Regions from separate parts of the Homo sapiens genome. Here regions 1, 2, 4, 5 and 6 are each reported to be linked to region 3. Evidence: microRNA targets listed by miRTarBase, many of them from high-throughput screens and not tested one by one. Region 3 holds a microRNA gene; each other region holds the end of a gene's coding sequence.

What was found. Region 3 holds the annotated microRNA hsa-miR-6869-5p (GUGAGUAGUGGCGCGCGGCGGC, at 2,866-2,887, shown strand). A microRNA usually pairs through its seed, bases 2 to 8, with sites in the 3' UTR of a target mRNA and lowers its output. Matches are read on the target gene's strand: a 7mer-m8 pairs with bases 2 to 8, a 7mer-A1 pairs with bases 2 to 7 and ends in A, and an 8mer does both.
Region 1: miRTarBase lists SLC26A2 as a target of hsa-miR-6869-5p. Seed matches in the 3' UTR shown: 7mer-m8 at 1,684-1,690.
Region 2: the mRNA of PALLD is a reported target of hsa-miR-6869-5p. Seed matches in the 3' UTR shown: 7mer-A1 at 3,979-3,985.
Region 4: the mRNA of RFC2 is a reported target of hsa-miR-6869-5p. The part of its 3' UTR that is shown has no 7-base or 8-base seed match.
Region 5: miRTarBase lists TENT5A as a target of hsa-miR-6869-5p. Seed matches in the 3' UTR shown: 7mer-A1 at 4,112-4,118.
Region 6: the mRNA of SRARP is a reported target of hsa-miR-6869-5p. Seed matches in the 3' UTR shown: 7mer-A1 at 2,412-2,418.

The regions. Positions count from the first base shown.
Region 1 is chr5:149,981,266-149,986,237 of GRCh38, reverse strand. SLC26A2 (solute carrier family 26 member 2) reads right to left here. Exons shown (of 3, transcript NM_000112.4): 3 at 1-4,972. The coding sequence ends at 4,425. Among named protein-coding and RNA genes, the nearest start is that of TIGD6, 17 kb to the left of the region's middle.
Region 2 is chr4:168,923,969-168,929,098 of GRCh38, forward strand. PALLD (palladin, cytoskeletal associated protein) reads left to right here. Exons shown (of 22, transcript NM_001166108.2): 19 at 287-452; 20 at 977-1,110; 21 at 1,265-1,310; 22 at 2,245-4,473. The coding sequence ends at 1,278. It also overlaps a transcript of CBR4 not described here. Among named protein-coding and RNA genes, the nearest start is that of CBR4, 84 kb to the right of the region's middle.
Region 3 is chr20:1,390,953-1,395,826 of GRCh38, reverse strand. MIR6869 (microRNA 6869) reads left to right here and starts at 2,866; the gene lies at 2,866-2,927. It overlaps FKBP1A (FKBP prolyl isomerase 1A), which reads left to right and starts at 2,773. Exons shown (of 5, transcript NM_000801.5): 1 at 2,773-2,865; 2 at 2,946-2,993. The coding sequence starts at 2,829. It overlaps FKBP1A-SDCBP2 (FKBP1A-SDCBP2 readthrough (NMD candidate)), which reads left to right and starts at 2,655. Exons shown (of 10, transcript NR_037661.1): 1 at 2,655-2,865; 2 at 2,946-2,993. RefSeq lists silencers at 2,717-2,766, 2,967-3,066, 3,077-3,146 and enhancers at 2,881-3,381, 4,173-4,686.
Region 4 is chr7:74,228,786-74,233,849 of GRCh38, reverse strand. It overlaps RFC2 (replication factor C subunit 2), which reads left to right. Exons shown (of 11, transcript NM_181471.3): 11 at 1,634-2,348. The coding sequence ends at 1,744. LAT2 (linker for activation of T cells family member 2) reads right to left here. Exons shown (of 14, transcript NM_032464.3): 14 at 4,016-4,906. Among named protein-coding and RNA genes, the nearest start is that of LAT2, 21 kb to the right of the region's middle. RefSeq lists an enhancer at 4,206-4,485.
Region 5 is chr6:81,745,928-81,751,057 of GRCh38, reverse strand. TENT5A (terminal nucleotidyltransferase 5A) reads left to right here. Exons shown (of 3, transcript NM_017633.3): 3 at 587-5,130. The coding sequence ends at 1,363. Among named protein-coding and RNA genes, the nearest start is that of TENT5A, 4.2 kb to the left of the region's middle.
Region 6 is chr1:16,004,490-16,009,565 of GRCh38, reverse strand. It overlaps SRARP (steroid receptor associated and regulated protein), which reads right to left. Exons shown (of 2, transcript NM_178840.4): 2 at 759-3,647. The coding sequence ends at 3,220. Among named protein-coding and RNA genes, the nearest start is that of SRARP, 2.8 kb to the right of the region's middle. RefSeq lists an enhancer at 4,645-5,076.

The sequences.
Region 1 (4,972 bases), not on the chromosome of region 3:
TTAATTAAAAAAACTGATTCTTTTTAATTTTTTCTTTTTATTTTAGGCTCAAGGAAACTTCCCTGCTAGTGAAACTTCACTCTCAACACCACTCAATGATCTAACAGCTTCCTAAATCCAACTTCATTCTTTTTGCAGTTTAAGCCCAGTTTCAAATAAGGCATCACTGGGATGGATAAAGAAAACACTGAGATGGGGGATAGAAACATTAAAAAGCAGAAAAACTAAGCAAAATCTAAATCCTGTCAATTGGATGTTTACCATTTCACACTGAAATCTTTCCCTGAATAGACCAGGGACATCACTGCCTCCTGCTCAGATCTCAAAGCTTCAACATGCTCCACAAAGCACCTCCCTAAGTACCCTAGTGTGTTCCCTGGGAGAGTTGCTACACAGCCCATCTACTGGATTTAGTACCATAGTCCCAGCACTTGGCCCAGGGTCCTAGACTGCTGGGTAGGTCCTCAGAGGTATCTGAAGTCATGTCTACATTGATACAAAGAAACGTATGGCTCATCTGTAACAATACGTAGAGAAACACAATTAAGAACAATAAGGATCACAGAACTCGAATGGATCATTATAACTTCAAGACTCAGTTTAAGTTACCAAGAAATGCACTGTAGCCCTTTTCTCACTTTTATATTCAGATCAGGGCTAACCCTAACATGTTCTTAAATGACCACTTATGGTCATTTAAGTGGTCAATGGGAATATTGCAGCAGAGAACTGCTGTTTTGTTTAAACGTACTAGCCATTAGCATTAAAAGAGTCTAATGAACTCATCTAACACCTGGACACATTTTTAAAGTTCATCATTTACCATATGTAAATTTGACAACAATTTTGACTTGCAATGTCTGTTGTTCAAAAGCAAAGTCAGACTATCTAAATCTTGTTTTCCTTTGGTCCTACTTAAAAAAAAATTAGACATCTTGTCAGTTTTATTACCATCAGAGGCACAGATAGTACTACAGTCACTCAGTTTAGAAGGAAGACACCGTGCTCCAGAGTAGGTCAGCCCAGGCTACCATGAGCTCCTCAGCCCTTTCAGCTTTGGTGAATCTGTGACCCTGTGACCCTCCCCTTCTAGAAAGAGAAATTTGCTCTAGAAAGATACCTTGCTCTGGGAGGTATGGCTCCTAATCCTTGTCTCCCTATTATTGTGTAGAGGCTAACCAGGGATTGGATCCTATTCAACTGGGTTCCTCTCTTTTCTGCCTCCGCTGGTCAGATAATAGTCTTTTCAATGGTCTGTTCTCTTCACTCCTCTATAATGTTTTCCTTAGTCTACCTGTGCACTGGCACACTCCAACCCTTTGGCTGTAACAAACTTAAAAATAAATAAGGCTGTAAGAGTTCTAACCATCAAGAGTATACCACACTACGTTTCAATTAAATAACCATTTTATGATACTCAGAATCTTGTACTGAGAAAAAGCTTCATTTAGACTCTAAAGTTTAGAGTAAGCAAGATATTTTTGTATCAATATAGTGTTTAAAATAATGCTTAAAGAACTAAAGTCCTATCCTTTGGTCAAGAGAGCAAATGAAAACAGTTTTTTGTTTGTTTGTTTGAGACGGAGTCTCGCTCTGTCACCCAGGCTGGAGTCCAGTGGCACAATCTCTGCTTACTGCAACCTCCGCCTCCCGGGTTCAAGTAATTCTCCTGCCTCAGCCTCCTGAGTAGCTGGGACTACAGGCGCGTGCCACCATGCCCCGCTAATTTTTTGTATTTTTAGTAGAGACGGGGTTTCACAGTGTTAGCCAGGATGGTCTCGAACTCCTGACTTCAGGTGATCCACCCGCCTCGGCCTCCCAACGTGCTGGGATTACAGGCATGAGCCACTGCACCTGGCCGAAAACAGTTTTTTTATCGGCAAATTAGGCTTTGGTTCCAGGTTTCATTCCTCTGAATATCAGCAACCAAAACATTTTAACAATATGCAAGTATAGGCAACCTCAACCCAAGTAGAGAGGATGAAATGTAAATTCTAGTGACATCTTAAATGTTTCTACAGATGGCTACCAAAAGCAGAATCTCTTGTTTGGATGGATGGGACAAGTACAAACCAGAACATAATTCAAGGATTCGCTAACTGCATGCATAACGTTCCAGAACTGTTTACATCCACATATGGACAGAAATCGCTGGTAAAGGTCAAATCCTGTTATCCCTCCTTCTGAGGGATTTTCCAGAATCTTTGGCTGGAATTATATTTTTTGCTGTGTTGGTGTTGGCTAATTATAACATCTTAAGCATGTACTCATTACTCTGTCACAGGTTATTAGACACCTATAATAGTCTCAACTTAAGCCTGCCTTGGGAGAAGGGCAAGAGAGATTAAAAATAAATAACTTGGCCAAGTGCAGTGGCTCACGCCTGTAATCCCAACACTCTGGGAGGCTGAGGCTGAAGGATTGCTTGAGCCTGGAGTTTGAGACCAGCCTGGGCAACACAGTGAGACCCTCTCTCTAGAAAAAAATTTAAAAAATTAGCAGGGTGTGGTGATGCATACCTATGGTCTAGCTACTCAGGAGGCCAAAATGGAAGGATAACTTGAGCCCAGGAGTGGGAAGCTTCAGTAAGCTATCATCAAACTGCACTCTGGCCTGGATGACTGTCTCTTAAAAAAGAAAAAAGGAAAAAAATAAAGACTGACCAAGATACTGTGATTTTACTGCTATTATTCATAAGGCTGGATAGAAAGGGCAAATACTGGCTAAAAAACAAACAAGAACAAATACAAGCAGCAATTAACATTTCTGGAATTCCAGACCCAAGTTCTAAAAGGATGTCAAAATTCAGGAAGCCTACACTTGATTATAATCACCTATAAGACAGAAATCACCTATAAGACAGAAATCTAGACTTTCTACTGAGCAACTGCTTTGTTGTGATAATGGAAAGGTATTTTCCATGTCACCAAATGGGAGAGCTCTACCAACAGAAAAGCAACACTGGCAGCTTATGGAGCTAACAATAAAGCTAAGTTACATATATCTATATAGGATAATATAGATATAATAAAATATATATGCATTTTAAATATACATATTAAACATGTACATACTTAATATATGTCTAAAAGCATCCCACTCCAACAGATGCCCTACACATAGGGTTTGCTTCTCATAAATATTTAAAATTGTTTAGAAACTGGGAACAGATTGAAAAATGATTTTGTACTTTTGCAGTTTACTTTTTTTTTTTTTAAGATGGCTGTTTCATAAATTAGTTCCCTATTCCTAACTTTGGAGAACCTGGTTTTTTCTTACCTTTCAAGGTCCAAATATAAAACTATAAACTTTCAGTGTTGGACATTCTTGCTTTTTGAAAGCAAATTCCTCCTCAATTCATGACCTGTGGGCCAGCTATCATGAATAATACACCCATAGCACTTGGGTTTTATGAATGTGACTTCTAAATCCTCCTGCATAATAGCTTTAGGTGACTTGAAGAGTTAAAAGCTGTCATTGTCATCAATATTTACTGTACATCAAACTCATTTAAAATGCTGTTAGAAATTGCTGACTGGCAAGACTGTCACTGACAAAAACACCAGTTTAGGACAGATTCCATGGGAAACAAACTAGAATAACTGAAAGCTAAAATAGAGCTTAATGGTAGAGAAAGTCTCAGAAACAAGGACAGAGATCACAGAAAAGACAAGGAAGGACTCCTATTGTTTTTTCTGATTTTGAAGAGCTCTTTGTGCTTACCTATTTATCCTAAACAAAAAGGCATGAGTAAAAATTTCCAATGTATTACAAAGGGTATTCTGTCTAATGTCAGGCTGGCTCTCAGGATGTTATAAACCTGCCCAGGTATTAGACTTCTGATGAGACTGTGCCTTAAGGACAGGAATGGCACTTTCCTACTAAAAACTACTGCCATCTGGGGAGCAAAGACTGGGGATAGAAAACTACAAGAACAAACCTGTCTAGTTATGACTTTGTGATCCAGAAGCCTCTTGACCTATGGTACTAGAGCAGGTGCAACATTCTTTCCCTCTCTCCACTGAGCCACATAAAGAAGTCTACAGCACTTCCAATGTAAATCCCAACTTCACCGCTTCATCTCTTGGAGAATGCACAGTCCAAATGTATAACCCCTAAAACAGGAGAGTAATTAAGTTTTGGAGCTACTTTACAGTACAGTTCAATACATACTTATTGCATTCCAAGAATACTTCATATCTGCAAGAAAGCCTGAAACCGTATTTTCTTCTTTTTGACTCTGTCCAGCTACAAGCTCTGCTGCAGTGTGTATATACAAATGCCATTAGCTTCAAAGGAGGAATAATATCTAGCCACTTGGTTAAAATTTCAAGTGTGCAAAATTTCCCACTGTGGAACTGGGAAATGTTGGACACTTGAAATTTTAACCTATTGGCTAGACATTCTTCTATCTACCTTCTCAATTAATCACTACTAAGACTCAGACCATTGGGAACACATACTCCTTTCTGATTTTTAGATACTTCTGCAAAAGCCATCGCTTCATACACACTATAGAAGAGAAGGTTTTCTTCTTCCTTTTTGCAATATTCTCCGTTGGTTAGGGAATCCCTCACAGTGGGATTGCACTGAGCCAGCAGAACCTGGATTCCAATGGCTTCATAATCTCTGCGAACTTCTTTCAGTGTGTGGATCCCTGCTGTATCTAAAAATTGAATTGCACTGCAGTCAATCACTATAGTATGCAGCTCCAAGGGATCATGGGAAAGTTGCACTGACATTTCATCCTGGATTCCACCAAGAGTCACTACTTTTTCTTTGATCTTTCTCTTTGCTGCCTTCTTCCAAGCCACCTTTATTAAGATTGGGTTGACAGTTTGTTTGTATAAAGCAGATTTAAAGCATTCTTTGTTTATGTAGTAGAGAGGGGCTACAAAGCGGAAAATCTTGATGCCTGGCTTAATCTGAAGGTTCTTGTAAGCAGACACAGATTCAAAGACCTCAGACTCTT
Region 2 (5,130 bases), not on the chromosome of region 3:
GAGTCTCCCACAGCTGGTCAGACAGGCATTCTGTGAAGCAGATGGCCAGTGGACAGTGTGAGCCTATCAGACTTGAATTAATTGAGGAAATAAATGAGCGGAATGAAGTATACAGACCTTTGCTTGGTAAAAGAATAATTTGGAGAGGGGACTAGCATCTTACCACCTGGAGTAAAAAATGGTATCATAAAAGATCTATTCAAGCAATATTCCAAAAGCCTTCTGAATTCTTTCTAGTGCTCCTTTTGTATATCATTGATAGAGAATTCATCTCATGTTTTCTTAGCTAAAGAAGCACACAAACCCCCTGTGTTTATTGAGAAGCTCCAAAACACAGGAGTTGCTGATGGGTACCCAGTGCGGCTGGAATGTCGTGTATTGGGAGTGCCACCACCTCAGATATTTTGGAAGAAAGAAAATGAATCACTCACTCACAGCACTGACCGAGTGAGGTAAGACTGCACAATGAGAACCTGATCCTTAACTGTTCAGTCCTAATGATGTATCAAAAGATACATTTTATATAGCATGGAAATCTATGTGTAAAAGCCACATAGATGTTTTGATTTTTGATGAAATCAATCAAAGACAAAAACCATGCGTTACCCAATGTAGGATTAAGCTTTTAGAAGGAAGCTATGGGTGTTTGATCTAATGGTGATTTCTTAAAAGTGTTTATCATTCTATCTAAAAGAAAAGATGAATTCATTTGCTTTAGTGATAAAAGACTATTCAGTGGTTTTTGTAAAGGCAGATCCTCAACTAGGAATTAAGCACACAGATGTATTCAACTCTTGACGTCTGTTCTTTCTCCCATTAACTTTAATGGAGCTAGTAATCTCTACAGAATAAGTATGACCCTATTATCAGCTACTTGCACAATTCTGTTTCTAATGATCTAATTAAAAATGATGCTTCATGTCCAAAGCCACTTTTAAAAAATTTAGAACCCTAATGACTTTATCCTTTTCTCCAGCATGCACCAGGACAACCACGGCTACATCTGCCTGCTCATTCAGGGAGCCACAAAAGAAGATGCTGGGTGGTATACTGTGTCAGCCAAGAATGAAGCAGGGATTGTGTCCTGTACTGCCAGGCTGGACGTTTACAGTGAGTGCCACTTCATCTCATTTCATTGCGTTTACTCATTAAATTATGAAAAATTAGACATCTGGACAGCAAATCACATTACTCTTTATAAACAACTATTGTGTTTTATTTGTCAAAAAAATTCATATTGCTCTCTCTCTCTTTCTATTTGTAGTTTCTCGACATTAATAGTGAACCACACCAGGAGAACAAATACCCAAGTATCATTCAGGAACTTTGAATTATTAGCAAAATATGCATGTTGATTTCTCTTACATTGGCTAGTTAGTTGTGGCTTCCTTACTCAAGCATCCTTAGGAGTTAACAGTAGGCAAAGGCATAACCATGTTTTTCACATGTTCTTGTTACTGTGTTCTGCAAATGACTGCCTTTTAACATTTCTTCCTATATTCTATCGCAGTGTCCTAATGCACTCTAAACGTGTGTTCCATTGATCCTGGAATGCGTACTTTTGTGGCTTAGTGCTTTTCTCATTAATATATCTTAAGCAGCCAGCAGTAGACTTGTGTTTGTATATTTGTGTACATGCATCCCAAATTTAAAGAAAATTATTCCTATTGAATTTACAGTCTAGTACAATCAGCATTATGTTATCCATTGACATAAAAAAAACACTAGAAAAAAATTAAGAATTTATTTAAGAATTTATTTCAGATTTTGCCTCTTCTTGAAATAACTATGTGAGGGTCATCAAGAAATGTGTGGCCTCAACCTTCCCTACTGTACGATTCCTTTCAGTTGATTAGTGTTAAAGCATCCACATCCAGCAGAATTCCTAAGTGCTATAATTATTTTAGAGAAAATATTTTTTAAAAGGAGAGGGGGGATGAGAATTAGGAAGCTTATCAGCTATTCCAAAGGATTCCCTGTGCTGCAGTGTTTACTTAAAAAAAAAAAAGATAAACTACACTTGACCTTTGTAATCTAGCTGCTTTATTCCCACTATCCTGTATAGACAGTAAATCTGCAACATGTGAGTAAAATGCAAAAGTGTTCCTAAATTTTCCATGTTTCTACCATGGATGTGTTCAGGTGCCTTGCATCTATCTAGACATTCTGTATTTATTTGAAATATCTAAAGGCTTTCCAAGTATATCTTGATTAAAAATCTTAATTTACTCTTTTTCTTTGTAGCCCAGTGGCATCAGCAGTCACAGAGCACCAAGCCAAAAAAAGTACGGCCCTCAGCCAGTCGCTATGCAGCACTTTCGGACCAGGGACTAGACATCAAAGCAGCGTTCCAACCTGAGGCCAACCCATCTCACCTGACACTGAATACTGCCTTGGTAGAAAGTGAGGACCTGTAATCCAGCATTCTTGTTAAAGCTGAAACACTGAAACAGCCATTGCCTTGACCAACATATTCCTTTGTCACATTATGTAAAAGGCAGAAACATACCTTTGACTATAAGAAATTAAAAAAAAAACACCAAAATAATATTTTTCTTACTTGATATACCAAACTTAGTTTAAGTAGATAATGCTAATACAAATATACACATTGCACAGAAAATACACATTTACTGTCCAATTTAAAACTTTGGAATTGCTGTGATTAAAGTGATCAAAATGCCAAAATACTAAAGGAAATCAATTGTTCACAGGTAACTACAATTTGTATTATCTACAAGTGCCTTTAAACACAAGATATAGGTGCTGTGTAGCCTGATAGTGTGAAATGTTTAATGAGGGAGTTGTACCACAAACAGTACTACAATGATTCTGAAGCACAGTGTATTCAGACAGATACAGTGAACCAAGTGCAATATGTAAGGATGAAAGAAGAAGAGATGACAAAGAAATCCAAGTAAATGCCTTGTCTTTGCAAATGTTTTTATATTAAATCATAAGGAAGGAACTACTTGCCTTAAATGTTAATATCAAAAGAGTTTTCTAACAAGGTTAATACCTTAGTTCTTAACATTTTTTTTCTTTATGTGTAGTGTTTTCATGCTACCTTGGTAGGAAACTTATTTACAAACCATATTAAAAGGCTAATTTAAATATAAATAATATAAAGTGCTCTGAATAAAGCAGAAATATATTACAGTTCATTCCACAGAAAGCATCCAAACCACCCAAATGACCAAGGCATATATAGTATTTGGAGGAATCAGGGGTTTGGAAGGAGTAGGGAGGAGAATGAAGGAAAATGCAACCAGCATGATTATAGTGTGTTCATTTAGATAAAAGTAGAAGGCACAGGAGAGGTAGCAAAGGCCAGGCTTTTCTTTGGTTTTCTTCAAACATAGGTGAAAAAAACACTGCCATTCACAAGTCAAGGAACCCAGGGCCAGCTGGAAGTGTGGAGCACACATGCTGTGGAGCACACATGCTGTGGAGATTGCAGTGTGTCTGAGGTTTGTGTAGTAGTGGAAGATTTTAGGTATGTAGAGCAAGTTGAAAATGGATTGAGACTGCATGGTGGCATAAATGAGAAATTGCCTGTAGCATCTAGTCTACTTGAAGGAAGTGGAGACATAAGGAGAGACAAAAACAGGTTTGTGCCATAAAGTATTTTTTCAAAGACACCAAGATGTGGTAAATGAAAATTATTAGTTCACTTCCCTGCTGCCATGAAACTTTGCCTTAAGAAGGTGCTGGATTCCAAGGTTTGTAAAGGCATCTCGGTAAAGACTGCTTTTTGAATGCATATGATTTTGCATCAGCTAGACTGAGTTGATTCTGACCAGACTTGATGGTTTTAAGTCGGAACCGATAAATTTTAAAAAGGAGAAAAAATAATTTGACCTAGTAGTATAAAACATGAGGCTTTAATGGTACTTTGCTATGAAAAGAAAACACTGTATTCCTTATGCAAAACACATGTATCTTTCATTATTTATAAGTGGCCTCTCTTAGCTCAGTTACTCAATTCATACGTAGTATTTTTTAAAATAATTTTATATCTGTGTACCACCCCATATATTTCATATTACTGTTTCACATGTACAGCTTTCTACTTCTTTGTAAGAACACCAACCAACCAAGGTTTAAGTGATTAATAGGCTTGAGCACCGGGTGGCAGATGTTCTATGCAGTGTGGTTCAAGTTTCTTTGACCGCACTTATATGCATTGCTAATATGGAATTTAAGATACCATACACAGTCTCTCATGGACCTATCTCTATTGTAGAATTATGACTTATGTCTTACTTGCCAAATTTTTCTGAATGTGACCTTTTTTTGCTGATTTGCTGGGTTTGGGATTAACTAGCATTATTTTGCCACCTTTATATTGTATTTATAAAAAAAAAAGTACTATCAATCAATCATACTACTTTGGATTGTTGTGCTGGTGTAATGTGGATTTAACATCAATAAATATTTGACAAATAATAGTTGCAGTTTTGTGAAGCAAAATAAATATTCAGTTTTAGTTTTCTGTTGCTGCCATAACAATTAGCATAAACTTTGAGTGATGTTTGAGGCTTCAGCATCACTCATTTATTACTCACAGTTCTGTAAATCAAGTTCGGGCAGGATGTAGCTGGGTTCTCTGTTCAGGATCTTATAAAGCTAAAATCATTGTATCAGCTGGACTGTATTCTCATCTGGAGCTCAAGATCCTCTTCAAAATTCAAGTGGTTGTGATAGCTCTGTGCAATTGTAGAAGAGACGTCTCCTTTAGTCCCTCAGCCAGGAGCTCTCTCTCTCAGCTCCTGAAGGCCGCCTGTATTCCTTGCCATGTAGCCCGCTCCATCTTCAGGGTTAGTGGTGAGAATCTCCTTCACCTCAGATCCCTCTCACACTTTCTCTTTGTCAAAGGCCCAGTCCCTTTTAAATTACGTCAGGCCCATCCAGATAATCTCCCTTTCTTAAAGTCACCTGACTTTGGGAACCTTAATTACATCTGCAAATCCCTTCAAAGCAGCAGCTAAATCGCCATTTGATTGGAATAACTGAGAGAAGGTGTGTATACACCAGAGGATGGGGATATTAGGGGCCATCTTACAGTTCTGCCTGCCACAGCAATGTACTGTAGGTATGCATGTAAATACACACCAGTGCCATGACGTA
Region 3 (4,874 bases):
CTCTCTCGCCCCTGGTTGCTCTCATTCTCCATCATTTATTCTCGCTGCAGTCTGATTTTCTCTAGGTGGTGTGAAGCAGTGTCCTGGCGACTGCTGGGGCCCTCTTTTTAATTTCATCTTTCGATCTCCATTCTTCCATTCTATGAGCACAGAACCTCTGATTTTAGTTGGGTGTGTGTACACCCAGAATGAAGACTTTATTCCCTAGCCTCCCATGCAGCTAAATTTGACCATATAACTAAGTTATAGTCAATGTGAAGTATAACGGGAAGAGATGTGTGCAATTCTAAGTCGTACCCTTAAAGGAAAAGGGAATGTACCCCCCATTCCTCCTTTCCCCCTTCCCACTAGCTGAGATGAAAATATGTTGGAGAGCCAACTTGGACCATGCATATGAGGGTAGGATTCTAAGGATGGGGAGCCACAAGTAGAAGAAGGATGAGTCCCTGGGCAGCCTGTGAAGTCCTACCTGCACTGAACCACCTGCCTCTGAACTGTTACATGAGAGAGACAGCAACTTCAGCCTCTTTTCAGCCACAGTTAATTTGGTTCTGTTACAGCCTGTATTCTTACTACATTAAAATTTCCAAAGCAGTCACGAGCTCACTGAGATTTTAGGAAAGGGGACATAGATGAGGGTTGGGGTGTCAAAAAACTGTGAGGTCATGTTTAAAACACTACAGGAGCTGGTATGGTTTAGTTCTGTGTCCCCACCCAAATCTTATCTTGAATTGTAATCCCTATAATCCTGAGGTCAAGGGAGGGACCCGGTGGGAGGTGATTGGATGGTGGGGGTGGTTTCCCCCATGCTGTTCTCATGGTAGTGAGTGCATTCTCATGAGAAATGATGGTTTTATAGGTGTTTGACAGTTCCTCTTCACATACTCTCTCTCATGCCTGCTGCTGTGTAAGATATGCCTGCTTCCCCTTCTGCCATGATTGTAAGTTTCCTGAGGATTCCCAGCCATGCAGAACTGTGAGTCAATTAAACCTCTTTCCTCCATAAATTACCCAGTCTCAGGAATTTTTTTTTTTTTTTTTTTTTTTTGAGACTGGTTCTCACTCTGTCACCCAGGCTGGAATGCAGAGGTGCAATCTTGGCTCACTACAACCTCCGCCTCCTGGTTTAAGCAATTCTTATGCCTCAGCCTCTCAAGTGGCTGGGATTACAAGCCTGTGCCACCATGCCTGGCTAATTTTTTTGTATTTTTAGTAGAAACTGGGTTTCACCATGTTGGCCAGGCTGGTCTTGAACGCCTGGCCTCAAGTGATCTGCCCGCCTCAGCTTCCCAAAGTGCTGGGATTACAGGCATGAGCCACCGTGCCCAGCCTCAGGTATTCTTTATAGCAGTGTGAGAATCGACTAATGCAGAAGCACACACACACACAGATCAGAGAAAGATTAGTCACATGTGCCTCCTTATGTCCTAGACCATGTCACAGTGTTCTCTTGCGTTACAGTGCCTCTGCAGGTACTGCTCCTTCTGCCTCCCCTTACCCCAACACATACACACAATTGGCCTTCTAACCTTGGCTAAACCTGGCTAAACCTGGCTAACTCAGGGAAATATCTGACCACATTCCAGACTAAGTGAGGCATCTCTGTTATATTAACACGCCCCTCACAGCATGTATTACTGTCTCATAATATTACAGATTTGAAACTTTACATTTATTCCGTATCTTTTTTTACTTAAACAGGTTATTTGATTATCTCTCCCACATCATACGTAGATTCTGTGAGGTCAGGGACTAAGTCTGACTCCTTCACCGCTGTATCCTCAGCACCTAGCACAGTACATGACATACAGAAGGTGCTTGTCAAAGTCAAAATAAAATATGGAGATGAATCTCTAAATGTAATGTTTTATTTGGGGAAGCGAGAATCGCAACTCGGAGCATACACACAGATCTGGTGGTCTTTGGTATGTCCGAAAAACAAAGAGAAGGCTGGGCGTTTTATTAGAAAGGGAAATGCATTGGCACTAGTAAAGTTTCAGGGAGCTGGCAAGCTCTGATTGGTGACTGACAGTGGTAAGTAAAACTAGTATTAGGTTATGGCGGGTTGTTTCAGCAGTTACTAGCTGAATCTGGTCTCAGGGGGACAGCAGGCCATTTCCGCAGCAGTTAGTGGAAATATTGGTTCTTGGAGCAGGCGCTGCGTGCCTCCAGTGCTTTTCCCCTGGCCCCTGGATTCTGATTCCGTTGGGCATAAGAAGAGTGACCCAATTCGTATTATCAACTTTCACATGCTCAATAAGAATGTATGCATGTAAGCTATGGGTGAGTGAATGAATTTGGACAACTCCTCCTCCAGTGAAGAAAAGCAGAACTTACAACCTTGAGCCACTTATAAAATACTAACATACTACCACCACCTGTGCGCTGTCTTCTCAGAACCATGCTCTTCCCAGGATGAGTAACTGTGTGCTTCTAAGTGGAAACCTGATGACAGTCACCCAGTCAGTGACTGGCGGACCCCCTATTATTACTCCCATTCTTTGGGCAGGGAGATGCTTAACCGGCTGGAAGCACAGAGGAAGGGCAGGAGAACGAAGCAAGTCACCCGGCAAACACAGCTGTATCCGGAGGCCTCCGGGCTTCCGGAGGTCTCGGGGCTTCTGGGCTTCCGGTCCCTCTTCCGGAGGCCTGGGTTTCCGGGACGTCGCGCGCCGTGTGGGGCGCGCACGCAGGGCTGGGCGTGAGGGGGCGTGCGCGTGCGCAGGCGACGCGCCGAGGTACTAGGCAGAGCCGTGGAACCGCCGCCAGGTCGCTGTTGGTCCACGCCGCCCGTCGCGCCGCCCGCCCGCTCAGCGTCCGCCGCCGCCATGGGAGTGCAGGTGGAAACCATCTCCCCAGGAGACGGTGAGTAGTGGCGCGCGGCGGCTCGGAGTACCTCTGCCGCCGCGCGCATCGGCTCAGCATGCCCGTCTCTGTCTCCTCAGGGCGCACCTTCCCCAAGCGCGGCCAGACCTGCGTGGTGCACTACACCGGTGAGTCGGGGGCCCAGCGGGGAGGGGGCCCGGGCCGCAGTCCGCAGCCCGGGTGCGGCTGGCCGTCGAGGCCTGGGGGCCCGGGGCCTGGGGTCCGGGGCGTGGCGGCGGCGAGGTCCGCATGGCCCGAGGCTGAGGCCTGGGCGGTGGCTCAGGGGCAGCCTGGGGCTTGCGGAACCCGGGCGGGTCTGAATCGGCGGCTGTGAGCGTCGGCTGCGGGCTAGGTGTTATCTGACCCGTCAGAAGCATTTCTGCACCTTAGATGCTGCCCTTATGCCCGCTGCACAGATGAGGAAACTGAGGCTTGGCGAGGCGAAGTCACTTTCCCAAGGTCTCACTTTCCCAAGGTCACACTTTCAGGAATGGGCAGAGCTCTGGCCAGGGACCATTAGGAAGGATTTGTACCATTTCTGTGCCCCTGCCCCCACTTCCATCCCTCCCTTCACTGGAGATGAGGACGAGGTAATTCCGAGTCTGCAGAGCTGCTGCTTCCTCCGGGGAACTCGGAATTCGCCCCTTTGCCTAGGGTGGGGAAACATCCCACTTCCTAAGTCATTGCTTTGGCCCTTCCTGGCCTTGGGGGAAGTAGAGCTGCACGGCCTTCTTCCGTCTTTTTACTTTTGAGCCACTTACAAATCCAAGGCTCAGTGACAGCGCTGGCTCAGGCTGACCGAAAGCTGCACGTGTAATTTAGTCCCCCAGCTCTTCTAGAAGTAGAGACTTTTCTCGTCCTCATTTTAAAGATAAGCATCTGGAGGCTAATACATAGTGATAATACAAGCCAAAGGAAATTTTAGACACCTCCCCCTCCCCAGCCAGAATTCAGACATCAGAGTCGTGTGCCTTGGGGCTGTCTTACTCCTTCTCCTTACAAGCTTGTCCTGGTTTGTATGGGGGCGGGGGAGGGGGAGAGCTGAGTTGGCGGAGACTCAGTGGCTGTGGGTCCCACAAGGGTGGCAGTGATTGGTGTAGCCACAGTTGTTGATACGAATAACCTTCCCTCCCCCTCCTCCTTCCCCTTTCTCAACCTTCCCACCCTTTCCTCTGTTCCCCCTCCTCCTCCCTCTTTTTTTCCCACTCCCTCTCCTCCTCTTCCTCCTCCTGGGTAGTAGGCTGTGGGCAGTTCTGGCCAAGTTGCTCACGAATAAGCTCCACCTTTCTCTTCCAAATCATGGAAACATGGAGGGATCCCTCTATTGAGGGAAATGACTTTCACTGGAAAGAGGAAAAGGCAACTAACATCCCCCCTCCCATGCCCTTTTATTTCTGTGGCCCTTCCCCGTGGGTAGAAATGGGGGCAGGAGGTAGAAGTTAAGGACTAGAACTTTAAAAATTCTGCCAAAGGAGGAGTTACTGAAACCCATCTTTCTGGGGAGCAGGCAGTCTCATGTCCGTGAAGGAAGCTGGAAAGTGCTTTTGATGTTTTAGATAGCTGTCCTTGTAGGCCACAGTCAGCACCTGAGCCTGGGAGGTCTGGTAGATGAAAGCGCATCCTTTTGGTGATTTGTCATCGGAAGGATGAGGAGAGTAACCATTTACAGTGCTGGGGTGAGTGGGCAGTTCATTCAGTTCCGCAGCCAACTGGGGCAAAGATTGGGACTCAAGCCGTGAGGAGCTGCCTTCTGCCGCACCCCCTCCCCACCCTAGCTTGTACATAGCCACACTAGGGTGCTTGGCAGCATGTGTCCCACTCCCACGTCTGCCCCTCATGCTCGCCCATGTTCTGGTGCTGCCAACAGGACTGGACCCCAGCATGTAGGCAGTGCCGCACTTCACCATGTCTCTTTGTGAAATATCCCCACACAGCATGTCTGGAGCCTTTTCCTATGAGAACAGATGGTCATGAGACCCAGAACACCATCAGGGTTTCCAGTGCCTCTT
Region 4 (5,064 bases), not on the chromosome of region 3:
CACCAGCATTCCGGAGGATCCTCAACCTAGCCACCACATGGAGTGCTCAGTTTGGTTTTTAAGCCATTCTAATAGGTGTGTAATGACCGGATGCAGTGGCTTACACCTGTAATCCCAGCTACTCGGGCGGCTGAGGGAGGAGGATCGCTTGAACCCAGGAGGTGGAGGTTGCAGTGAGCTGAGATCACACCCCTGCACTACAGCTTGGGCGACAAGAGTGAGACTCCATCTTAAAAAAAAAAAAAAAAAAAAAACCAATAACAACAACAACAAAATAACCTAATAGGCATGTGATGAGATCTCATTGTGCCTTTAATTTGCATTTCCCTAATTACTATGCTGAACATTTAATCATGTGCTCGTTTGCCATCCAGAATCTTCTTTGATGAAACATCTGTTCATATATACCCATTTTTTAAAATTTTTACATTTTTTATTTTAATTGTACTGTATTTTTTGTTTAGAGATCATGTTAAGACCGGCCAATTTTTATATTTTTGGTGGAGACGGGGTGTCCCCGTGTTGCCAAGGCTGGTCTTGAACTCCCGGGCTCAAGTGATCCTCCCGCCTCGGCCTCCCAAAGTGCTAGAATTACAGGTGTGAGCCACTGCGCCTGGCCTACCTTTTTTATGTTTTTGAGAGACAGGGTCTTGCTCTGTCACCCAGGCTGGAGTGCAGTGGTGCGATCATAGTTCACTGCAGCCTCAACCTTCCATGCTCAAGCAATCCTCCCACCTCAGGCTCCCGAGTAGCTGGGACTGCAGGCATGTGCCACTACACTTGGGTCATTTTTATTTTCTTTTTTTCGTAGAGTTTGGGTGTTGCTATGTTGCCCAGGCCCAACTCTGGGCAAGTGATCCTCCTGCCTCAGCCTCCCAGAATGCTGGGATTACAGGTGTGAGCTACTGCTCCAGGTCTAAATCTACCCATTTTTTAATTGGGTTGTTTGATTTTTATTACTGAATTTATTTACTTATTTATTTTTGAGATGGAGTCTTGCTCTGTTGCCCAGGCTGGAGTGCAGTGGCACTATCTCAGCTCACTGCAACCTTCGCCTCCCAGGTTTAAGTGATTCTCCTGCCTCAGCCTCCCGAGTAGCTGGGATTACAGGCGTGCGCCACCATACCTGGCTAATTTTTGTATTTTTAGTAGAGATGGGGTTTTACCATGTTGGTCAGGCTGATCTCGAACTCCTGGGCTCGTGATCCACCTGCCTTGACCTCCCAAAGTACTGGGATTACAGGCATGAGCCACCACGCCTGGACTTTATTACTGAATTTTTGAGAATTCTTTATACAGTCTGGATGCAAGTTCTTTATCAGATATATAAATATTTTCCTCTAGCCTGGCTTTCCGTGCCACCACCCCGCCCCCCCTCGCCCCACCCATTTTCTTAACAGTTTCTTTGAAAGAACTATCAGCATCCTTTTAAGAAATAAATAGAACTTTAGGTAAACATAATCCATTGCATCTTAGCATTCATTTTCCGGCTGGGGTTGGAATTCCTCATGCTGATTTTGAAAAAACCATTAGTTCAGTTTGTTTCTGTTTTTATTTTTATTTTTTTCAGTTCAGATTTTAAAAAAGAACTCCCCCACTTATTAACCAGATTTGAATTTGGTTTGTTTTTCAGGAAATTGGATACACTCACATGAAAATAGCGGAAGGAGTGAACTCTCTTTTGCAGATGGCAGGCCTCCTGGCAAGGCTGTGTCAGAAGACAATGGCCCCGGTGGCCAGTTAGAGCAGAGACTTCACTGACTGACTTACAGGTGCCCTATTCTGAGGTACAGGAGCCGCGGCTTTCTGATGGGGGAAAATGCCGCCTTAGGCTGGAGCCAACATGACTGTCCTTTAAACTCCAGTGGCTGGCCAGGCACGGTAGCTCACGCCTGTAATCCCAACACTTTGGGAGGCCGAGGCAGGTGGATCACCTGAGGTCAGAAGTTCAAGACCAGCCTGGCCAACATGGGGAAACCCTGTCTTTACTAAAAATATAAAAATTAGCTGGGTGTGGTGGCGGGCACCTGTAATCCCAGCTACTCGGGAGGCTGTGGCAGGAGAATCGCTTGAACCCAGGAGGTGGAGGTTGCAGTGAGCCAAGATCACACCATTGCACTCCAGCCTGGGCGACAGAGTCTCCATCTGGGGAAAAAAATTAAATAAATAAACTCCCGTGACTTGCATGTTTGCTTCTGGGACGTCTGTGCCCCGCAAGTGTTTGAGTTTGGCCTCCACCCCATTGATGCGGTGACGGGGCGGAAAGGCGCAGAGAAGCTGAGGGCGGTCTCTGATCTGTGTGTGGGTTGACATTTTAGCTAATAAAGCCTTGCAGTGTTTGTTGGCAATAAGGTGACCATGTGAAGCCTCGAGAAAAACCAGCTTCCTGTCTCTACGGGCCTTGGCAGCCTACAAGTAGAAAAGGCGATTAGATAGTAGACCCACAAGCTCATCTCGGTTCTTCTAGAAGCCTGAAGGCGCCACTTCCCCAGGGCGAGGGCAGGGTTTGCTGTCTTTCCTATTTAGACTGATTTCTCAGAATGGCCAGGTGGCGAGCCTTTCAGAGAGGGCGGCAGAGTGGAGAGATGCAGCCCAGCCCTCAGGAAAACACCGTGATGCTCTTCCTGTGTTCTAGACCATACTCTTTGCGCTTGCTTTAGAATTCCCCAAAGAATTTCGTACTAATTTGTAGAATTGCCTTTTTTTTTTTTTTGGTAAGATACTATTTTTTTCCCTTTTTGTTTTGTTTTGATTTTTGAGATTGGGTCTCACTCTGTCGCCCAGGCTAGAGTGTAGTGGGCCAATCTTGGCTCACTGCAGCCTCAACCTCTTGGGCTCAAGTGATCCTCCTACCTCAGCCTCCTGAGTAGCTGGGACTACAGGCATGTACCACGATACCCAGCTAATTATTAAATTTTTTGTAGAAATGAGGTCTCACTATATTGCTGGGACTGGTCTCGAACTCCTGGCCTCAAGTGATCCTCCCACCTCAGCCTCCTAAGTGCTGGCATTACAGGTGTGAGCCACCATGCCTGGCCCATTTGGGCACGGTGGCTAAAATACGAAATACTAAAATACGAAATTAGCTGGGCATGGTGGCGCACGCCTGTAATCCCAGCTACTCAGGAGGCTGAGGCAGGAGAATTGCTTGAACCCAGGAGGTGGAGATTGTAGTGAGGCAAGATGGTGCCATTGCACTCCAGCCTGGGCGACAGAGCGAGACTCTTACAAAAAAAGGAAGAGAAACTTGTCCCTGAGGTTGTACAGTCAGGACTTCAGGATGTGAAGTAACAGGTGGGCGGCAGTTGGGTTCTAGATGTTTCTTCTGATTTCCTAACTTGTCGCATTAATTTCTTCTCATGGGAAGAGTCCCTGGGCCATCCCAGAAAGACGGCTGGACTTGGGAACTAAGATCCCATCCGCAGCCCTGATGCTCTCAGGGTCCCTTTTTATTAAACAAGAGCTGTGGCCGCCATTCCCTTAAGGCTTTTTGTGTTTGGTTATGTTTTTTGAGACAAGGTCTCCCTCTTTCGTCCAGGCTGGAGTGCAGTGGTGCGATCTCGGCTCACTGCAAGCTCCGCCTCCCGGGTTCACGCCATTCTCCTGCCTCAGCCTCCCAAGTAGCTGGGACTACAGGTGCCCGCCACCATGCCCGGCTAATTTTTTTGTATTTTTATTAGAGACGGGTTTCACTGTGTTAGTCAGGATGGTCTCGATCTCCTGACCTCGTGATCCACCCACCTCAGCCTCCCAAAGTGCTGGGATTACAGGCGTGAGCCACTGTGCCTGGCCGTGTTTTGTTATGTTTTTTGAGACAAGGTCTCCCTCTTGCCCAGGCTGGAGTGCAGTGATGCAATCATAGTTCACTGCAACCTTCTGGGTTCAAGTGATTTTCCTGCCTCAGCCTCCCAAGTAGTTGAGACTACAGGCATGCACCACCAGGCCCGGCTAATTTTTATATTTTTATAAAAGGTTTTTTACCTGAAGCAGGAGAAAGGAGACACAGGATAATCACTGCTTTTCAACTAAAATGGTTTTATTGAGATGTTTTGGTTGGAGGAGATACTTTTTCTGGCAACATTTCTGACTCAAGGTCCCTCTGGGCCCCAGCTCTTCCCATGAGACAGTCACAACACTGTTTAATCAGCTCTGCAGAGGCCAGCCCTGGAGCAGAGGAGGATTCAGGGCCATGGAGGGGACCTACTCTGCCCTGTTCTGGTCACTACTTCTCTAGACTCTCATGCACTATTGTCTGTAGCAAGTGACATTTCCACTGGAAGCACATAAAGATGGCGACAGCCTCATTTCTTCCTGAGTGAACTGAAGCCCAAAGAAAGGGGAGGTCCCACCAAAGGGGAAGAGAGCCAGGGCCCCACCCAACAAGGATGCTGAAATAAACTACATGTAATGCTTTCTAGGAGACAACACAGAAATCTCTACTCTGAAATCCAGAATGTTAAATATGGCTCCCCCTCTATAAGTTAACTGTACAAGCTTATCAATCATTTAAAACCCCAGCAACCAACAATAGCAATTAGGAATCCAAATTCATAGCACAAAAGAACACAGATACCAGTGTTGGACAGTGGTTTTGTTATGGGGACTGGGTGACAGCTTATCCTAAATCCTGCGCATCCGTCCATACCAGGAGCCGGGTTACCCTTGGTACCAGGTGCCTGCCCCACAAAGCCTGGGTCGGGAGAGGGCTTGGTGACGGGCCTGCAGCTCCCGTGAGTAACTGTCTTTTCCCAGGCTGTGCACGCATGGCCAGGTGGTCCTCAGGGTGGCTGGTTCTCCTTCCAGGAGCAACCATGGCAGGGGCTTAAAAGTTGAGTAGCTCTGGGAAATGGTCCTTGGAAGGCAGCGATGGGTCCATGAGCACAGTGGTCCCTCTTTGCCTTGGCTCCTTAAATGAAGAGGAAAGTTTGTAGAAGGAGGTTTGCCTTGATCAGTATTTTGTTCCTGAGAACCATAACCACTGGTTTGGGGACACCATTGAGCCTGCCTCCTGGCTGAGAACAGAAGCCGCACATCAATAACTGGGTTTCTTTTTTTTTTTTTGAG
Region 5 (5,130 bases), not on the chromosome of region 3:
CCTCCCCACCCTCCACTTTAGTTCAAGACGGGTTTTATATGATTAGTTAAAATTGTCTGAGGAGGCAGGCTCCTGGAATGTCATAATTTAGTTTATATTTGATTGTAACTGCAGGGTGCCCCTGGAGGGACACACAAGATACTGATAACATTGATTGCCGCAGGCGGAGAGGAATTGGGTGGCTTGGAACAAGGGCGAGAGGCTGACTAACCTACCGCTGAATGCCCTTCCGAGTCTTTTGAATGTTGTTTGGATACTGTGTGAATATTGTGCCTATTAGACCGTTTTCAAAAAGTAACACTTAAAAAGTCAGACATGACAACAAAACCTCTTACTACTGTGCTACGTCTGCCAAAAGCCTCAAACTATTACCTCTAGTCCCTTTCCCAGACAGTAAAACTACTCGTTAAAAGTATTTTTTTTCTATTTTCAGAAGACCGTTTAAGCCTGTAGGTAGTGTTTGGCTGAAACTTGACAAAACAAAAGGGAAAGAGCAAAATAATTCTCAGCTGTGAAGAGGATGTATTTATTTATTGATTTATTATTTTCTAGGTTTGCTCATTTTGTTTTATCTTTTAAATTGTAGGAAGCTTATGTGCAGAAAATGGTTAAAGTGTGCAATGACTCTGACCGATGGAGTCTTATATCCCTGTCAAACAACAGTGGCAAAAATGTGGAACTGAAATTTGTGGATTCCCTCCGGAGGCAGTTTGAATTCAGTGTAGATTCTTTTCAAATCAAATTAGACTCTCTTCTGCTCTTTTATGAATGTTCAGAGAACCCAATGACTGAGACATTTCACCCCACAATAATCGGGGAGAGCGTCTATGGCGATTTCCAGGAAGCCTTTGATCACCTTTGTAACAAGATCATTGCCACCAGGAACCCAGAGGAAATCCGAGGGGGAGGCCTGCTTAAGTACTGCAACCTCTTGGTGAGGGGCTTTAGGCCCGCCTCTGATGAAATCAAGACCCTTCAAAGGTATATGTGTTCCAGGTTTTTCATCGACTTCTCAGACATTGGAGAGCAGCAGAGAAAACTGGAGTCCTATTTGCAGAACCACTTTGTGGGATTGGAAGACCGCAAGTATGAGTATCTCATGACCCTTCATGGAGTGGTAAATGAGAGCACAGTGTGCCTGATGGGACATGAAAGAAGACAGACTTTAAACCTTATCACCATGCTGGCTATCCGGGTGTTAGCTGACCAAAATGTCATTCCTAATGTGGCTAATGTCACTTGCTATTACCAGCCAGCCCCCTATGTAGCAGATGCCAACTTTAGCAATTACTACATTGCACAGGTTCAGCCAGTATTCACGTGCCAGCAACAGACCTACTCCACTTGGCTACCCTGCAATTAAGAATCATTTAAAAATGTCCTGTGGGGAAGCCATTTCAGACAAGACAGGAGAGAAAAAAAAAAAAAAGAAAAAAAAAAGAGTGATCCAGCCCTTATTAGGGATGTGTTTTGTGCAATGATGATATGCTCCTGGTTTTAAGTTTGGCAAAGCTTATGTATCTTTTAATAGATGTGGGAGCATGATCTCGAAAGGATCCTTTTCCCTTCTCTTATTCTCCTACCCAATTGGATTCTATCCTGCAAAAAAAGAGAGACCTGTCATTAGAAGCAACCAGGTTCTCCTGATACAAGAGAAGAAATGTGTGATGACAATATGGGTTTGCTGTATCTGCTCCCATAGCTTTGCCATAGGAAAAAAAAAAGTGGAAAGTTTCTTTTAAGATGGAATTCATAAAAGGGAAAATACGGAGGAAAAAAGGTCTCACTCCAACTTGTGAATCAGTTTAGGAGTTCAGATATTAATAGTAACAATACAGGAAAAAGGGGAACTCCAACGTTGGGATTACTGTCTGAGGCTTGTAGCAAGTGCTTTCTGTGGAATGATCTTGTTTTGCTAACAAACGGCTTGCTCCAAATGAACAGTAGTAGGTTGGTGCAGTTCTCGTAACAATCAGCAGAACTTATGATGACACAATCCATTAATTCCAGCTGCGTGCATAGATCACATTTTTAAAATGTAAAAATGCAAGCAAAAACAGCTGTAACAAAGAAAGTGTGCTCAAGGACCAAAGATTTAACAGATAAAAATACCCAATTAGAAGAGATATAGTAGACTATATGAAGAGAGATTATATTTGTTACACACCAATATACATCAAAGTGCCTGTTGCCTTCTGAAAATTTGAAGTGGCAAAATTATTTTATGGTTTAATGATTATTTTATTTTATCAGGGACTGCCTCAAGAAGAAAATAACATAAGCTTGTGAATGGTGGAGAAAATGCCCTATTTTTTCTTGCAAATACTTGTATAAAGTTAACATTTGTTGATCTGATATTATCATAGGTACATGTGTATGTGTGTATAAATTATATGTGTGTGTGTATATATACATTTTATATATACATTTTATATGTATATATACACAGTAGATTGACTATGATCTAGAATAATGTCTCAAATAGGAAATGTTTAAATACTGTGTGTTTTTATGTTTTCAACAGGATAACATGAGACGTGGGCATATTGCAATGATGAATTAAATCCACATCTAAAAAAATTAAATGAAGGAGGGAACCAAGTAATATATTTCATAGGAAGAGCAGAAATTATACTGTTTTAGTGGGATTTTTTTTTCTTTTTTTTTTTTTCTTTGGTGAGCCATAAAATTCCACAAATGGGAGAATATTTGTTTGGCAGAGCACTCTTTTTTATATTGAACTGCCATTTTGACAGTTGGAACCCATTTATTAAAAAAAAAATTGCATTCCTCTATGATGTTTAATCTAGTGGATCATGGATCAGTAATAGGCTACTTAAATCCCTGACTGCTAAAAAGGATTTCCGGTGATCTAAACACTACTTGCTAATGTTTAAATGAATTTTAATGAATGCATTCTGCATTTCTGGACCACTAGAATTTAGTAATGTGAAATGACCCTTTTTACAGAATATTTGCACAATTGCTTAAAATTTATATATGAGATATATATTATATATAACATTTTATAAATCATGTCAATATGAAACATCTTTGATCTGGTTGTCACACTGCATTTAAATATTTAGTACTGTACTTTAAATCGCTTTCCATTAAATCAAATCCAACTTTATTTTCTTTCTTACAAAAATACCAGTTATACCTTTGTGAAATGAACTGGCATTACTATTTCAGTTCAATAACAGCTAATCCTAAAACCACCCTTTCTCCTAGCCAGTAGTTCCTCTAGATACTGGTCTCTGAAAATGCATTTGTTAAAAACAAAACAAAACTAACACATAAGAACCTTCCCTTTGTGTTGTGAAACAACCACATAATCTCCACAACCTTAGTGGATGACTGCTTGCTATGATAATTCCTCGAAGACCCAATTAGAAGATTTTCATCATCAGTTAAAGAGAGACCACGGGAGAAAAAAATATCCTCCTGTTGGCAGTATAATTTGTTTGTTTGTTTATCTAGGGATCCTCAGATGCTTAGTGCTAGGTTAATCCAGGTTAATCCGTCTGGACTACCTTTTGTGCATCTTTCTTTGAAGCCTTAATGGGAACCTGATGGGTTTGCTGTAGCAGCTTCCTTGTGAATTCTGTCAGAGCTGCAACAGCCGCTGCACTGCCACTCAGTTTTCTAAGGAACTCCTCCTACTACCATCTTGGCTCAGTCTCCCTCACTTAAGCCCTGGGTTTGAAAAATTAATTGCAACTTCCCAGGAAACATTGTTCAGTTTGCAGATTAAGCCTGGCACTCACCTATCAGAAACCAGAGCTCCGCCTGCTTAGTTGTTTCAAAGTTTTCTGAAAGAAAACTAGGGGAGCACTTGTGAACACAGGAGCAGCTGGTGATCTGCTTTCTTACCCTAACTCTTGACAAATGAGTCGTCTACTATTTTAAAGAGTCTGGAGGTCTCTGACTCTGCCATAACAATAACCTGCTGTTAATTTATAACACAGATTTTTGTTTGGAAGAGCCTTATTTGAAATACACTTTGATTTATTTTCTTAAATATTTATATTCTTTTCTTGCTTACTTCAGGGTTGGTAGCTTAGTTGGAAGTGCCAGCACCTGGCACCTATTCATATAGAACAGGCTGTACTCAAGACAACTTCTAGCATTTACTTTAAGACTTATATAATTTATTTCTATTTTGTGTGTACTATAGTCTTGTGCATATGTAGTTGAACACACAGTGAAATATATGTCTCTCTTTGTGGATGTGCGGCCTAAAAATTTGAATGTCTGGTGAGAGAGAGCCATGTGTATAGGTCAGAGAAAAGAACAGCTCCCGACTCCCTATTAGCGCCTGTGATTTGTTTCCTTTTGTGTTTATCTGGCCTAGTGTGCTGTTTCTTTAAACCAGGAAGAAGTTTTGTCTTTTGGAGGCTCTTCTCACCTGTCCAGCCTGGCATGTCAGAGAACACATAGCCTGTGACAATGCCGTTTTTAAAGGTTTACTTAATTTGCAGTAAATCCAGCTGCCTCAAGAACTCCTACACCAAGATGGACATTTCCTTTCCAGAAATGGGATCAAGTATCTGCTCACTTTGGTATTGGATGGACTAATAATGTAGCTCCAAAAATGCAAGGATGGAAGAATATGTGTAATCCAAACCAAGGAAGGAAATGAAAAGTGAACGTACTGTTTTTACCACCCCTTTCTGTTTGCTTATTGTTGGTTGCTTCACTGTGCATAAAGTTGTTTTCAATGCAACGCTTGTTAAATAAATATTGTGAACTATTTTGTAAATGAAATGTATTATGTTGAAAGCTGTCAGTTCAAAAATAAGCTTTTTTGTTGTTGTTGAAGATGAAGTGTGTTAGGTGAAACCAAAAAGCCAAAAAAAGTAATTTCATATATAGCATCTATTTGAATATAATCTTTCTTTAAAATTTCTTTTAGCATAGCATTTTCAGTGCTAAGAAAGAATCTCTATGTTATATTTTGTTAAAATAATGGCTTTCTAACAAAGCAAATGGTAAAGTACAAAGTTGGAAGATGTCAAGTTAACGAGACTTGCTGCAAAGCCTTGCAGAACGGAGGAGGCTCTGCCTGCTGGCTGTCTCTCCCTCCAACCTCTCTACAATCATGCCTGCTTTGAGGTGTTCTGTTGC
Region 6 (5,076 bases), not on the chromosome of region 3:
GATGGGGTGTGGGGTGTATATTCAATTGCCCCGTAATGACGACAGCTATAGTAACTGACGACATCAATAGTAATGATGACAGCTCCCTTTACGGAGCAAGTATAAGTGGTATAAGTGCCTGGTTCCTCTGAATCCTCACCAAGACCCCCCAGGGTTCAATTCTGAAATGTCACTTTGCTGGGTGCCTGGCATAAAGTAAACATTCATTATTCTGGATGAAAGGAGTATTGGTTAGAATGAGTCTGGCTTCTGAAAAACAGACCCACTGGTTGGCTGGCCCCAAGGCTTTAGTCCCAGACCCAGCAGGTCCACACCTTCCCTGTCCAGGCCTGGACCCAGTGTCCTCTAGTCTGATGAGAGGGCGACACCTGCTGGTGAAAAGCCGGATGTGCAGCCACAGGTCTCCTTTCTCCTTGAGGGTCTCAAACTCCCTCTGCAGCCTTGTCCTTGGGGCCTTCAGGAGAGTAGAATGGGCATATGTCGACCAGATTGTACTGCGTCCTCCTCTCTAGTCCAAACCATTGCTCTCCTTTCTCAGGATTAAGACTCAGCCTCCGGTGCCTCCTCCCTGCAGTCAGAAGGCCCGGAGGGATCCTTTCCAAAGGTACGTCTGGCCATGACGCTGTCTGCTCACAATTTCCAGTGCTGCCATCTGGGAATAAGATCTAAGATCTAAAGGTCTTGTTGCAGCCTGCCAGGCCTCACCTGATGCAGCTTCTGCCACTTTTCTTTTCTTTTTACTTTTTTGGTTTTTTTTTGAGACAGTCTTGCTCTTGCTCTGTCACCCAGGCCGGAGTGCAGTGGCGAGATCTCGGCTCACTGCAACCTCTGCCTTCTAGGTTCAAGCAATTCTCTCACCTCAGCTTCCCAAGTAGCTGGGATTATAGGTGCCCACCACCACGCCCAGCTAATTTTTATATTTTTAGTAGAGACGGGTTTTCGCCAAGTTGGCCAGGCTGGTCTCGAACTCCTGACCTCAGGTGATCTCCCCCCGCCTCCCCCTCCTTGGCCTCCCAAAGTGCTGGGATTACAGGCATGAGCCACCGCGCCTGGCCTCCTGCCACCTTTCTGATCTGTTTGTTTTGTGTGTGTGCATTGCCTGTCTCCCCCAACTAGAGGATAAACTATTTTGTGGCTGGGCCTCATTGTCTTATTCATTGCTCCATCTCATGGTTTAGCCCAAAGCCTGGCATTCAGTGGATGCCCAATAAATACTTGGTGAATAAATGAATGAATGACAATTACCCTAGCCAGACTGAACGACTGGTCCTTCTGCCCAGAGCACTCCCCACTTGCTCCCCCACCCCACCCTTTTGTATAGCTTAGTCACCGGTCAGATCTCATTTTCGGCATCACTTCCTGCAGGAAGTCCTCCCTGATCTCCTCTCTCTAGAGTGGGCTGGTTGTCCTCCAGCATCATTCTGTGTTGCCCTTACTGTTGCACTTCTCAGAAGCTATGGCAATTGTGTGCTTTCTTTCTGGCCTCCCCCACCTGGCTGTGAGCTCCTTGAGGACAGGGTTACATTTATCCTCTGTGTGTCCCCTCTGCCTAGAAGAGACGCTACCAGGATGAGAGGGTATATACCTTACAGTTACAAGCAAGAATATGGGCACCAGACTTGCCTGAGTTCTAATCTCAATGGTACCAGTCTATGGAACTTTGAGTCCATTCTTCAACCTCTCTGTGCCTCAGCTCTCTAATCTATAAAATGGTCACAAATACAGTGCCCATGTTGTTTCTCTGACACAGAGTAAATGGTCAATTACATGTTAAATGTTAGCAGCTAGTATTTGTAGGAACCTAGTAAAATAGTCATTGAATAAATTAATGACCAGATACGGTGGCTCACACCTATAATCCAAGCACTTAGGGAAGCTGAAGCGGGAGGATAGCTTGAGGCCAGGAGTTCAAGACCAGCCTGGGCAGCACAGTGAGACCTCTTCTCTACTAAAAGAAGTCAAGCTGGGCGTAGTGGTGCACCTATAGTCTCAGCTACTCGGGAGGCTGAGGCAGGAGGATCACTTGAGCCCAGGAGTTTGAGGCTGCAGTGAGCTGTGATTGTTCCACTGCACTCCAGCCTGGGTGATAGAGTGAGACTCTGTCTCTAAAATAAATACAGAAAAACCCAGTGATTTTTATCTGGGAGCTTTGAGACTGACTTCCTTAAATAGGTTGCTTTAGGGTTTCTCACAGTGCTGTGCATGCCTTAGACTCACAGACACCTTCACACCCACACCAGTAACTCCACCTCCTGCTCAGGGAACACGATTGCCCTGAGGGGTGAACCTCCTCCCCCCACCTTTTTTTTTTTTTTTTGCTATCCCTAGAGGGCAGCATGAGCCTGGTATGCAGTAGATGCTCAATAAATAACATGTCTTGTTTTCATTCGTTCAAACATGATACTCTATTTTTGAGTACCTCCCTCCCTTTTGAGAAGCCAGATCCCCTTATTTCCCATCTCAGATCCCCAGGTCCCACCTGGGCTGCCTTATGGGATGGAGTCTCCTGGAGCCAACTTCCCTGAGCCTCCCAGCCCCAACTGGCATGGCCCTCGAGTCTCCCCACGTGGTATCCCCTGCCTTTGCAGTGACCTACACACTCGCCTCTGAGCCAAGATGGCAGCAAGAAACCCGTTGCCCCTCCCCGTCATGCTGGGGCATTCTGACCACTGCTCTGGCCTGCCCTGGGGTAAGATGACAGCAGGTGGCCCTGGGGAGGGTGGATTTTCTCAGGGCTGGCCCCTTCTCATCTTTTAGATCACACTTTGTTGCCTGCGCAGAGAGGCCCTTACCAAGCACTGCATCAGGAAAGGTCTTCACCCCAATCACTCTCCCTCTAGCATCCTGTTTCAGTTCCTGCAGAGCATTCATCGCTGTTCAAAATCATCTTCTTTATTTATTGGGTTACTTTATTTATTCAGGGTGGGTTCCCTCCACCCCAAAAATACCAGCTCCAGGAAAACCATGGTATCTCCCCAGCACTTTGCAGGGCCTGGCATGTGGAAGATGTACCAGTAATATTTGCTGTATGAATGAATGAGTCTCTTCATGTGCAGGTGACTTATCCTGCCTCTGCCACTCGACGGATGTTTCAGATGCCCCTTAGCGGATCTAATGATGTTTCCTTGGCTCAAGCACAAAAGACTCCTGCTTAGCTGGGGAAGCAGGGCCAGGCCCTGGGAATTGCAGCCTCTGGGCATCAGAGCCCGGCCCTTCCAGCTAATCGGCCTGCCCACAGACACAAGAGGAGAGGGCTTTCAGTGAGTCCTTGACTGTTCCCCAAGTTGAAGACCTCACAGGCGCAGCCTTCACGGGTTTCCCCTTAGCCTCGGGAACCTCCTGGGGGCAGAGCGGGCTGACTGGGAAGGAAGCTGAGGCCACAGACCCTCTGCAGAGCGGCAGGGTGGCCCTGGCCTGGGCAAGGCATCCCCCACCCATGGGGGTCACCCGAGTCAGATGGGGCCAGTTTTCCCCACAGAACACGATGTAGGTCTTCATTGGTGGGGTGACAAGCCCTCGATTGGGACTGGGGGCTTGGGGTGGTGATGCGGTTGCTGCCAGGGAGAGCTGCTTCCCGTGGGTGCAGTCAATAACAAAAGTCAGGTGAGCCGTGGGGACGGTCTTCTGATGGCCAGCCAGCTTCCCACCTAGAAGAGAGGAAAAGACCAAAAGTTAGCACAAGCAGGGGACTTTTCTTTTCCCCTGAGACAGGGTCTCACTCTGTCGCCCAGGCTGGAGGTCATGGCTCACTGCAGCCTCAGCCTCAGGGGGCTCAACCAATCCTCCCATCTCAGCCCCCTAAGTAGCTGGGACTACAGGCTCATGCCACCATGCCTGGTGAATTTTAAAATTTTTTGTAGAGATGAGGTTTCCCTATGTTGCCCAGGCTGGTCTCAAACTCCTGGACTCAAGAAATCCTTCTGCCTCAGCCCAATCAGTACTGGAATTGCAGGCGTGAGCCACTGCACCCGACTGGGACATGGTTTCCTGAATTCATTTGTTTATTCATTCGATAGGGTTCAACTGGATTGGTTGATACACCAACAGAGGAGGACAGTCAGGGTTTAAGTGTATGGACTTCAGCATCAGAGAGACCTGAGTTCAAGTCTCCACTTACCATCCATCCATCTGCCTTCCAGGAACACAGAGTCCAACATGTCAGTGCCTCCCAACTTTGCTGTTCCCATGAGCTGCCTGGGGAGCTTGTTAAAATGCAGAGTCTGGTGCAGTGGGGCTGGGGTGGGGCCTGAGACTCGCGTTTCTAACAAGTCCCCAGGGGATGCCAATTCTGCTGGTCCATGGACCATATTATGAAAAGCACAGTCCTCAACCCCAGAGAGGAAAGCCCTGGCCATCTTTCCAGGTGAGGAAACTGAGGCTCAGCCTGCACAAGTGTTGGTGGGTCTCAGGGAGCATCTTGCTACTCTCCCCCTCCCCAGATAATCTTGTCCACAGCCTCAGAGAATCCCATCAGTACCTGGTGGCATTTGCCCTGGCAATCCCCCCGCTCAGAGCCCAGCACAGGGTAGAGGGATGGACAAACCAGCCAATAGACTTATCAATGAAGCAGGTGTCTGAGCAATTGTATCTGAATCCAAAGCCTGTGCTCTTAAAAAGGTAACTTTTTGAGTTACCCAAATAACATACACATCCATTCTCTTAGCTACGTGCTGTGAAACACGACGTGGGCTCAGAAGGAAGCTTATGTTCTAGTAGGTTGGCTAGCACAGGAAATAAAACGAGCCCGCCCTTGGCTGGAGAATCCCAGCAACCCAAGGGAGGTAGCATGTTTGCCATCAGACCCCCACCCACCCCCAGCTGGTCTTGCTTTTTTTTTTTTTTTTTTTTTTTTGAGATGGAGTCTCACACTGTTGCTCAGGCTGGAGTGCAGTGGTGCGATCTCAGCTCACTGCAACCTCCGCCTCCTGGGTTCAAGCGATTCTCCTGCCTCAACCTCCTGAGTAGCTGGGATTATAGGCACCCGCCACCACACCCAGCTAATTTTTTGTATTTTTAGCAGATATGGGGTTTCACTATGTTGGCCAAGCTGGTCTCGAACTCCTGACCTCATGATCT